Homo sapiens: one gene and its partners. The protein of the gene in region 2 interacts with the protein of the main gene of each other region in a pairwise test. Each region holds a gene or a part of one and is shown on either strand. Other genes may lie near its edges.

Region 1 (4,316 bases), on a different chromosome or scaffold from region 2:
TGCACACCTGTAATCCCAGCTACTTGGGAGACTGAGGCAGGAGGATCGCTTGAACCCGGGAGGCAGAGGTTGCGGTGAGCCGAGATCATGCCATTGCACTCCAGCCTGGGCAACAGAGCAAGACTCTGTGTCAAAAAAAAAAAAAGAATATAGATTTTTAAATGGCTTTTACTTTTATATTCGCTAAACTTTCTCAAACTGGATCCTGCTTATTACAGGAAAGAGTTCTTGGTTGTTTTCTCCTTGGCCCTATCCCTGATTTACCCTTAGAGCCACACCAGGGTATGTTGAGGTGATCCAGTATATGGACAGAGGAAGGGAAACAGCTAAGAATGACTCCAGCCCCCATCCTATGCACTCACAGAAGCTTCCCATATCCTCTTGGAGAGAGAGGAAGAAAGTTTTTCCTTTTATTCCTTATAGTCTGGCTCCCACTAAAATATGTCAAGGCATAAAGTCTTGCTATTCCATCAATTTTAGAGGATGTGACAAGGGGCCTTTCCTTTTTCTCAAACCAAAACGGTTACAGACCCTAGATATTCCCTAAGGGAGGAAGAGAAAGCTTAGAGAGAGCAGAAGAAAAGTCAGAAGGATCCAAAGTCTCATAGAAAGGCACTGGGGTTGGCTCTAGGATCCTTCTGATTCCGAAATCTCATTGCTAGCCAAACACCAAGGATCTGTAGGAACAAAGGGAGAGAGATAAGTATCAATTAATTCTCAGTCTCAAAAAGGATGTGTGTGAGGGAACTGGAGAATGTTACCTCTGTAAAGCTAAAGAAGAGTCCAACACCCCCTAGGATTTTCAGGGCTTCGTCTGAATGCTTAAGAAACTTTTCTCCACACATCTGGCATGTGGGGCTCTGGCTCTTGCAGATCTGAGGATAAAACGTGAAGAATGCAAAGTTGTGAATGTAAAGTTGCTAGTGACTAATACCTATGCCGAATGTCCCTAGAAACTTTACTGTTATCTGACCAGTGTCCTACAAACTAAAATCCTACTTGGCTAATTCCCCAGCCTCTATCCACCCCCACCTCCCACCAACACAGCCCCAATACAAGAGGGCTTGTAGAGAGAGAAACAATGACATTCAAACTAAATTTGCCAACTTGGGCATTGTCCTTACCCAGTTTCCTACCTCCCCTGGCTGCTGCACCACCCCCAACACACTCACTGCAGTGCAGAAATCATAATCTTGTTGATACAGGGTTGTGAGGTTGAATAAGCCACAACAATCAAAACTTCTTTCCAGTTCATCCCGAGTCTTGTTGCTCATGACCCACCAAGAAGCATTGATGACATCTGTCTGAAAGATATGGGTAGAGGGAAATTAAGTCTCCCTACATCCTGTTATCAGTTCAAGTGCCTCAATTTCCCTAGCCCAGCAAAGGAAGTCAAACAGAAGCATAACGGTGTGCAACAATTATAGACACGATAAATATCTACCTTTTGAGGTTCTCTAGATCATCCTCATGGAAAATTAACCAGACATCCCAGAGGAAGCAAATAGCCCAAGAGGCCAGAAGCAGTGCACCTAAGGATGATCTTTGGGTAGTTGGGGCCAGACTAAGGAAGGAGTTCGAGGTTAAGAGGAAAATTTTAAAAAGCAAGTAAGTACTTGAAAGGGTACTGTCTTACCTGTTTGCTTCGGTTAATAGCCAGACATGAGCAAGAGATTACAAATTGGAAGATGAAGACCAAACCAAGGATGATCATGTACTGAGAGGAAAGGTTATGGAAAAAAGTCCTAGATTCCTTTATGTTTCATCTATAATAACTGTCTGGTCTCATCTGTTCATAGAACTTACACCACCATGTCAAATTGAAAGCAATAAAATCAGCTCTTGTTTCGTAGATTATGGGACAGGGCAGGGCAAGGAGACGTGTCCAAGATCCCTGAGGTCCCCTACCCTTCTAACATCTTCCTTAGATGACAGCCCTCCCAAGCCCCCGGTTGCCCCCATCACTTCAGGTCAGGATACAAAGAACAGCAGGACTTGGTGGTGGTTGACAGCACCCACCAGTCCAGCCACTGCAATAAGGAGAAGGAAGACTCCCACAGCAATGACTCCGCCGATGATGTGGATGCTGGACACCAGACCCAGGCCCTTGCCCCAAGCAGCCACTCCAATGAGCAACAAGCTCACCAGCTACGAAGAAAGAGCAGGATACATCTCAACAATTCTAGCATGCGGCACAGCCCAAGGCCATACAAGAGGACTTGGGAGCGGGGCAGGGGGAAGGAATAATGGAATAGTGTGTGAATGGGAGCTGGGGATGGTGCTATCCGCACCGGGAGCATCCCTAGGCACTCCCAAAGGTTAGAATGGCTAGGATGGCGGGGAGGGGGTGGCAGGGATGGTAGTATGAATGCAAAAGATGAACCCTCAGGATCATCCTATCACTTCCAGTTTGGAAGAAACTGAGGTTCACAGGAAGGAGGTATGGAACTTACGCCCACGGCCTTCAGTTCATTCCCCCACCCTCAGACAAACCCCCTTAATCAACCGGAAGTCTCCTCTCTCCCACGGAAGTCCCCAGGAATTCCCTCGTCGCCGGAAGTTCCTGGGAATCTTCCCGGAACCCCCATACACCCCTCTCCCCACCGGAAGTACCCTAGAGATTCTCCCCACGGGGCCTTTCCGCCTTGAAGCTTCCCCCACCTCCAAAACCTCACCATGTAGACCACGTTGAGAGCGCAAAGCGCATTCTTGGAGCAGGCAAAGCCGCCACAAACCATCTCCCCAGCTCTGGGGACCCAAGTGGTCCCAAGGACTTGGGGGGAGGGTATTGGGGACCGTCTTCCAGGACCCCGACAGCTTCTGTCTCTTTAAATCGAGGCCAGCCAAACCCAATACTCTGCGCCTGCACCGTCCCTCCCCTGCCTCTGGATTGGCGAAATGCGTGGCTAATCCTGGACGTCCAAGGCCTGCATGCCAATCAACCCGCATTACGTCACCGACCCGCCTTCTGTCCCTCTCCTTTTGTTTTTTCATTGGGCGAAACTTAAAACTAGGGGCAGGGTTTCTAGAGACTCTCTTAGGGACTACAGCCTAAACTCCAAAAGCTTAGGTTGAAAGCTGAGCTTTCTGTGGTCGGAGTTAGGAGAGGGCTAATTCCCAGGGAGACGGCTCTGGAGGAACTTAGGTGAAGGGGAGACGGCGGGAGGGGCGGGTAGGGGGCCGCTCTGAGAGCTGGGCAAAAAGGGCTCCGCCCGTAGAAGGAGGGCCCTTCCCCACCCCCTTCCCCCTGTTCTGCAGTGACCTCACGATGACGCCATTGTTTTGTTATTGCGTCACGCTCGGGAACACCCAAAGGAGCCACATATTGAGCTTATTTAGCCCGGCCGCAGAGTCCGCGGGTTGGACACAGCAACACCCAGCAAATCATCACACGTTTGTGTGTCCTCTAGTACCCATGTCCTGTTCCATATCTCCTCCTAAAGGGGTGTGAATATACCAGAAATTCAGTGTGGAAATAGCGGCCTCAGGCCAGCGCATTCCTGTATGTGGCATTGCCACAAGTGCACAGAGGGGTGTGCTCAGCATTTTCAGAGTACACGCCTGATCTAGGGCTTGCAAAAAAACGGCAGGCAAGAGGAAGAGTCTCATTTACATAAATATAAGTGGAAGGAGCCTCCACCTTTTCACTTGGGGGTAGGCTGATCAACAACTTTATTATCTAGTAAGTGCTTTGACAAACCGTCCTTCTCACGGGGGTAGGGAAAGGCATAATCCTTCTCTTCCCCAGGAGAAAGAAACAGTAGGAACAAAAAAGAAAACCCTCCAATCAACTCAACAGAATGATTTAAGTTTGTGTGTACTTAGATTCTATAGACTTACTGCCACAGTCAGATTGCCACTTCCTAGCTGCGTAACCTTTGGCCAGGCACTTAGAAACTGTCTGTGCGTGTTTCCTCATCTGTAAAATGGGGATAAATAACAACACACCCTACCTCTTGGGTTGTAAGAATTAAATGAGTTAATATATGTAGAATACTTAGAACAGTACCTGGCATATAGTAAACACTCAATGTTAGTTATTACTTTTCAGGTCATTTTACAGGTTCCTGTGGGCAATTCCAACCTCAATTCCCTTATCTTTAACTACACAGTATTTATATAAACTCTTACAGAAATTAATACCAAAAAGGTATGCAGGAGAATAGATGTTTGACAGGGCGAGAGAGGTGTTTGGGTCTTGAAACAAGGTAATTAAGTTATTATCATTATTATTATTTTGAGACAGAGTCTCCCTCTGTCGCCCAGGCTGGAGTGTAGTGGCGCGATCTCAGTTCACTGCAACCTTCACCTCCCGG
Region 2 (3,651 bases):
TACCAGATGGGCTGGGAGCACATCTTACAGATGAATTAACTCGGGTTACCTTGGCCTGCCTTTTTCATCCTCTTTGAATTTGATTGGGAACAAAAATAACAATGCTTCAGTTTACGAAGTGCTTTCATATGCGTTATCCCACCTGATCATGAATCACAACAATCTCACGAAATAGTGTAATTATTCCCATTTTACAGTTGTGAAAGCTGAAAGTCAGGCACAGTAGGTGGTATGTCCCAGGTCTTCTGACTTTAAACCCCATGCTTTTTTCATTGTTTTAATTTATTGGAACGTGTAGAATATAAGGTATAAGAAATGCTGCTAACTTGGAAAATCTGAAGCCTGTGATCAGGGAGATTATATTCAGTGTCAGATTTAGTCTTGATGCATTCCAGAAACAGGTACAAAGAGATGCCTAAAAATACTAAGGCATATGGGAGAAGAAGCAGGAAGGAGAGAGGTTGGGAACACTGCTGATCAGTTTCAGGCAGAGGAAAAGTAACATGGAAATTGAGAAAGGGTATATATCAAGAGACAGTTTAAAAAGTTAATTTCAGGAGCAAAAACTTGAAGAATAGTAAGCACTATATAAATGTACACTATGTGCCAGCTGCTTTCCTAAGCATTTATTAACTAATTTAATCCTCACAACAACCCTATGAAATAGTAGCAGTTATCATCCCCAGTTTACATATGAGAAAACAGAGGTCTGAAGCATTGAAGAGACTTGAGAGCTGGCCAGTGGCAGAGCTGTGTCTCTATGTGTGTCCCCAGAGTCTGTACTCATAACCACTCCAAGTCTACAGACTATCGGAGAGGAAGGTTGAAGCTCTGACAAACTTGTGAATTCTAGACCTGCACTGTCCAATGCGGCGACTATGCTACTGATCACATGTAGCTATTTAAATTAATTAAAACTAAATAAAATGTAACCTTCATTTTCTCAGTCCCACTAGCTACATTTCAGAGCTCCATAGCCATAGGTGCCTAGTGGCCACAACGCTGGACAGCAGAGATATAGGACATTTACATCATTGGAGAAAGGTCTTCTTGACAGCCCTAGCCTAAATATAGTTATTCTTTCACTCATAAATATATCTATTCATATTTTTCTCTTATGGGGTCTTAAAAACATTAAAGAGAGGAGACATAGTTTCCACAAAAGGCTACTGACTTTCTAGTATAGAAGATTTAGAAAACCGAAAGGAATTCCAGCTGTCATGGAAAGAGGGAGTGTGGATCTAAAATAAAAATTAGTAGAGGACGGCTGCAGCAAACCACATTATTGGAACCATGGGAGCGATGTTTCCTATCTTGAAGATTAAGCTTTTGGTTTGAAGGTAACATTAGCAAGTCTACCAACATAATAGCACAAAGTGTGAGGCACTTACTGTTCTCAGTGTGTAACATGAACTCATTTAGTCTCTTTAGGAGGCACTATTATTACCTTCACTTTGCAGATGAGGAAGCTGGGGTTAGAGAGGTTAAGTGGCTTGCCCAAGATTATAGGACCAGTAAGTGCCAGAGTCTGATTCAAACCCAAATGCGTAGAACCCCCATTTTTATCCACTACAACTCCTTTACACCTACGTACCGTATGCACGCATGTGTTTATTACCCTAAGGGCATCATTATATATTCTGAACACCCAGAAGAGGTGAATTTCTAGAAGAACAGTTGGCAGATATTCCAGGATGTGTACCAAGCTCTGTCCTCCACATCGTAATGGTGATTGGGAAAGAGTCAGCTTATTAACAGGGGTGGCAGAGCAAGGCTGAGCAGGGCCAGGGGTGCATTGGAAGTTGCTGTCACTCATCCAGGAAGCCGACTTTGTCTCCCTGCTCCCGCCAGAGTCTATCTAGCCTTCTGTGAATGGACCAGTGCTGCACCTTCCTGACCTCAAACAGGTCCTGGTAAAATGGCTTTTAAGAAAAATCTCTATAGAGCACCAAGCTAGACTTTCACAATTTCTGCTAGATTCCACCCATGCTAACTTCTTAGTAAACAAATTGTTTTGGCTTTTCTAATCTAGCCTTAGTTCCATTTGAAACATTTTTTTAACCACTGTCATTCTGTAACAACTAAAACTGGATGAAGATCATTATTTATTGATCAATAATTAAGAATTGTTTATCTGCTCCAAAGTAGTTCTCCCAACCACTATAAATAAATATTGTTTAATGTGTTGTCTTTGCTTATGTAAAGCTCTATATAGATGAGATGTCACAGTAGTCATTGTGGCCTCCAAGATAAGTGATTATATATGCAGAGGGCAGGCCTAGGATGAGAGCCAGCTGGATGTTCCAAGGAGGAGGTCCGCTGAACCTAGAAAAGACCATTTTTTTCCTCTCCGGGCTTATCCCCTTGATGAGGTAAGTAAGGCAGACATTGAGTTCAGTTCACTTCTGTGACTTGGTAGACCAGATTTTAGTTCTGTACATATTTGATCTTCATTTGAGAAAGCCATCTGCTCCCTGGAATCCTTAGCCAGTAGTCTATGACATTTCATTTTGCTGTATAGTATAAAGAAGACTACATAGGCTGGGCATGGTGGCTCACACCTGTAATCCCAGCACTTTGGGAGGCTGAGGCAAGAGGATCACTTGTGCCCGGGAGTTCAAGACCAGTCTGGACAACAAAGTAAGGCCCCATCTCTACCAAAAAATAGAAAAAAATAGCTGGATGTGGTTGCACATGCTTGTAGTGGGAGGAGGAGGTGGGAGGATGGATTGAGCCTGGGAGGTCAAGACTGCAGTGAGCTGTGATCAGGCCACTGCACTCCAGCCTGGGCAACAGAGTAAGACCCTATCTCAAAAAAATAAAAAGCAAGAAAACTACACAGCCATCGTCTTTCTCCTAATTCTTGATGTTCCCTAATCTCCTTCTCCTTCTCCCTGTATTGTTAAGAGAAAAGACATTATGTATAATCACCAAATAAACAACACATTTTCCACTGTCTATATGTAAATTATCTGCTCTATCATTTGCAGCAAGCTTTTCATCCCAAGTTAGTTTCCTTCCCCTGAGCTTATATTTCTCCAGCACTTCTAAACTGCCCCCAGCAATGTTGGTTGACCCATGCAAGTTAACTTTATAACAATTTAAACAAACTGAAGGTGCATCTGGCACAAATGTATAGCCCAGTGTTCTTTGCAGAGATGAATGGAACACTCCTGATTTTATTGTGGCCTGAATTGCACCACCCTTCCATCACTGCAGAGAATTAAGCATTGGTCAATTATAAAATATACTCTTACCTGAAGGAAGTTTTTCTTACTGTGAGCTTTTTCTTAGGAAATGGCATGAGGAAAATAATGGGGAGATCAGAAACACTGGTACCTAAAGGAGCTGCCATGCATTTCCAGACTAACACAGCCTTCTCATCGCCACAGGCTGCCACAGTCCTGCCTCTCAGTTCCCACTCACCTGGTCCTGATGAAGGCCAAGGTAGTGAGGTCCTTCGGAGACCATTTGACATAGATGTCATATGGCATTCAATTCTTGTATTTTTTCTGATAAAACCCTTGATTTTGAAGAAATGCCATCTGAATCCTTGACTTGCTTTTACTGCATAACAGAATAAAAATCTTGGGAGCTGGTTTTCCTCTTTGAGAAAATTCAGATCATCTTCCAGAGCAAATGTGCTTCTGA
Region 3 (3,651 bases), about 59 Mb from region 2:
CAGGCTGAAGTGCAGTGATGCTGTTCAGCCTTCTGAGTAGCTGGGTGTGTACCACCATGCCTAGCTAATTTTTTTTTTTTTTTTGTAGTGATGGGGTTTTGCCATGTTGACCAGGCCGGTCTTGAATTCCTGGCTTCAGGTGATCTGCCCACCTCAGCCTCCCAAAGTGTCGGGTTTACCAGTGCAAGCCATTGCACCCATCCCTGGCCTGTTTTACGGATTAAATAAAAGTTCTGAGTTTTACTCTGATTGGACCAGTGAAACCATTTTCTAGTAGTGAGGGAAATGACATGAACTGATAGCTGTAGGCCTGGGTTACATTCAAACCTGTAAATAAGTCACTCTGACAGAGGGGATGGGATTATCCTAATTGGCTTAGGAAACTCGTGATTCATTTCTGAACCAAATGAACCTTGGTACAGGGTAAGTATAGGTATAGCCAAACTGTTACACAATAGGGCTGTGATGCATTTATGTAGGGAATGTAATCACAGTGCCTTCCATGGCAAGGATGATTAAGCATTAGAAAAATCTTTCAGTGTGGTTTACCACATAAAGTGGTGAAGAGTGAAAAAGTATCAGTAGATAAAGAACAAGCACTGGATAAAATTTAAAATTTTACATGTATATGCACATGTAAAGTTCTTGGAAAACTTAGAAGGAAACTTGCTTAATCAAATATCTATCAAAGTCTTATGTTTTATGCTGAAATTTAAAATGCGTTACCATCAAGATATATTGAAACAGGAGCAGTTAGGGCATGATAGCTATCACCATAGCTCTTTGACGTTGTACTAAAGAATCCAGCCAATGCAAGATGACAGGAAAAAGAAATGAAGTGTGATTAGAAAAAAAGTGAAAAAATTCTCATGATTGGTAAAGTATTTAAGAAAGTGAATGGATAAGCTATTAGATTTAAAGACTTTTTGCCAGGCATGGTGGCTCATGCCTGTAATCCCAGCAATTTGGGAGGGTGAGGCGGGCAGATCACTTGAAGTCAGGAGTTTGAGACCAGCCTGGCCAACATGGCAAAACCCCGTCTCTATTAAAAATACAAAAATGGCTGGGCGGGGTGGCTCAAGCCTGTAATCCCACCACTTTGGGAGGCCAAGATGGGCAGGTCACGAGATCAGGAGTTCCAGACCAGCCTGGCTAATATAGTGAAACCCCGTCTCTACTAAAAATACAAAAATTAACTGGGTGTGGCAGCACATGCCTGTAGTCCCAGCTACTCAGGAGGCTGAGGCGAGAGAATCGCTTGAACCTGGGAGGCAGAGGTTGCAGTGAGCCAAGACTGCACCATTGCACTCCAGCCTGCGTGACAGTGAGACTCTGTCTAAAAAAAAAAAAAAAAAAAAAAAAAAAAATTAGCTGGGCAGGGTGGTGAACACTTGAAATTCCAGCTGCTCAGGAGGCTGAGACAGAAAAGTCACTTGAACCCAGGAGGTGGAGGTTGCAATGAACTGAGATCATGCCACTGCACTCCAACCTGGGCAACAGAGTGAGACTCCATCTCAAAAAAAAAAAAAAAAAAAAGATTTAACGACTTTTAGGAAGGTTAGCACCAACAGTAGAAAATAAAATTGCCATTCATAATACCAACAAAAATAATAGGTAACAAGGAAGAAACAAAAATTTATGTAAAATTTTAATAAAATTATAAAATGTTATTGAAGGAAATGAACACCTGAATGAATGGGGAGAGATGCCATGTTGATTGATAGGAGTCAACCTTGAAAAGATGTAACTTATCTCCAAATTAGTCTGTAACTTGGGTGGGAATTTCAAATTTTCAGTTATTTTTATAAACATTCTGAAATGTATCTGGACAAGTAGAGGTACACAGGTAGCTAAGAAAATTTTTAAAAAGAATATTATGTATTAAGATAGACTACAGAGTTACAGTGATTAAACCAATGTGATATTGGCTTGTTATAGAAGTGAATCACTAGAACAGGGTACCAGAAACAAACCTATGTATATAAAGGATTTCAGTATATGACAGAATTCGCTTCACATACCACTGGGGGAAATGGTAACTATGCAGTAAATAGTGTTGGGACAGTTGCATCTTTGAGTGCAATAAAATAAAATTAGGTTCCTTAGTTGTACATAAAAATTATTTTTAGTGAATCAGATATTTAAAGTGAGAAATAAGCCTGTAAGAAGAAAACAATGGAGCATATTTTTGTGATTGTCAAGGTAGGAAAAGCCAAATCACAAAAGGAAAAGATAGTTGCATATCATTATAGAAAAATTTAAGTCTGGCCTGGGCATGGTGGCTCACACCTGTAATCCCAGCACTTTGGGAGGCCAAGGTGGGTGGATTACTTGAGGTCAGGAGTTCAAGACCAGCCTGGCCAACATGGTGACACCCGGTGTCTACTAAAATACAAAAATTAGCCGGGCATGGTGGTTCATGCCTGTAATCCCAGCTGAGAATCTGGGCAGGAGAATGGCTTGAACCCAGGAGGCGGAGGTTGCAGTGAGCCAAGATTACACCACTGCACTCCAGCCTAGGCAGCAGAGTGAGACTCCATCTCAAAAAAAAATTTTAAATCTGAGTGCAAAAGACCATTTAGGTTATCTATTTCTTCTTGAGTGTACTTTGGTGTTTTCATCTTTCAAGTAATTGGTTAATTTCACCTAAGTATGGGGATAGAGTTGTTTCTCTGTTATAGAGTAATATTCTCTTATTATCCTTTTAATGTCTGCAGGATGTGTATTAATATCCTCTCATTCCTGATATTGACATGTATTACATATACATACATTGAAAAACCTACCAGTCTAATAATTTTGCTTTCAACAGCCATACGTATATTTCCTTGAGCACTTTAAAAATGCTTTTCCAGTGTCTTCTTGTCTCCATTGTTTCTGATAACAAATCTGAAGGGATTTGAATCATTGTTCTCCTATTTGTAATATGTTATTTTTCTTTGCTTTCAGTACTTTTATTTCATTGTTTTCAGCAGTTTGATTATCTGTGTGTGGTTTTCTTTGAGTTTATCTTTTTTTTTTGGATCACTGAGATTCTTGAATCTGTAAATTTATATCTTTAACCAAATTTGGGAGTTTTCACCCATTATTTCTTGGTAATTGTTTTGTTTCTACACTAATCTCTTTCTTTTCTGGGACTCAGTAGACAAAAATGGTAGACATTTCCATACCGTTCTCACAATTCCTTAGGCTCTTTTCATTGTTTTCCCTGTGTTCAAGCTCACTGACTTTTTACTTTGTTAATCTCCATTCTGCTATTGAGATCGTCTGATGAATTTTTAATTTTAGATATTGTATTTTTCTGTTTTTAAATTTACATTGTTTTTTAAAGTTTTTTTGTTTCTCTGTGGATAGTTTTGATATTTTTATTCATTACAGGTGTTTTCACGTTTATTTTATGGATTATTTATGGAGCAACTGGGACATCTTGGGATTGGTCTGTGGATTATTTTTTCACTTGAGAATAGATCACCCTTTTATGTTTGTTGAGTAATTGGCTTGTTCCCAGAGTTTTCGAATCTTATGTTTTGAGACTATTTCTTGTTAAAATCCTCTGAAGAATGTTGACTTTTTTTTTTTTTTTTTTTTTAAAGCAGACATTCCACCTGGTTGTGTCCAAACTGCAAGATCTGTCTTGCTTTCTGGTTCCAA

The links.
Region 1: the proteins of TSPAN2 (region 2) and TSPAN31 interact in binary tests that used the Homo sapiens proteins (3 or more experiments, as listed by UniProt).
Region 3: the proteins of TSPAN2 (region 2) and RABGAP1L interact in a two-hybrid assay, tested with the Homo sapiens proteins (one large-scale study listed by BioGRID and IntAct).

What each region holds. Positions count from the first base shown.
Region 1 is NC_000012.12:57,743,577-57,747,892, reverse strand, and holds the start of TSPAN31 (tetraspanin-31), read right to left. Parts: upstream 2,855-4,316; 5' UTR 2,739-2,854; coding exon 2,676-2,738; exon of another isoform or gene 2,662-2,675; intron 2,471-2,661; exon of another isoform or gene 2,454-2,470; intron 2,149-2,453; coding exon 1,981-2,148; intron 1,718-1,980; coding exon 1,637-1,717; intron 1,305-1,636; coding exon 1,173-1,304; intron 876-1,172; coding exon 762-875; intron 678-761; coding exon 603-677; 3' UTR 1-602.
Region 2 is NC_000001.11:115,079,463-115,083,113, reverse strand, and holds part of TSPAN2 (tetraspanin-2), read left to right. Parts: intron 1-3,651. UniProt on the Homo sapiens protein: May play a role in signalling in oligodendrocytes in the early stages of their terminal differentiation into myelin-forming glia and may also function in stabilizing the mature sheath.
Region 3 is NC_000001.11:174,221,927-174,225,577, forward strand, and holds part of RABGAP1L (rab GTPase-activating protein 1-like), read left to right. Parts: intron 1-3,651. UniProt on the Homo sapiens protein: GTP-hydrolysis activating protein (GAP) for small GTPase RAB22A, converting active RAB22A-GTP to the inactive form RAB22A-GDP. Plays a role in endocytosis and intracellular protein transport.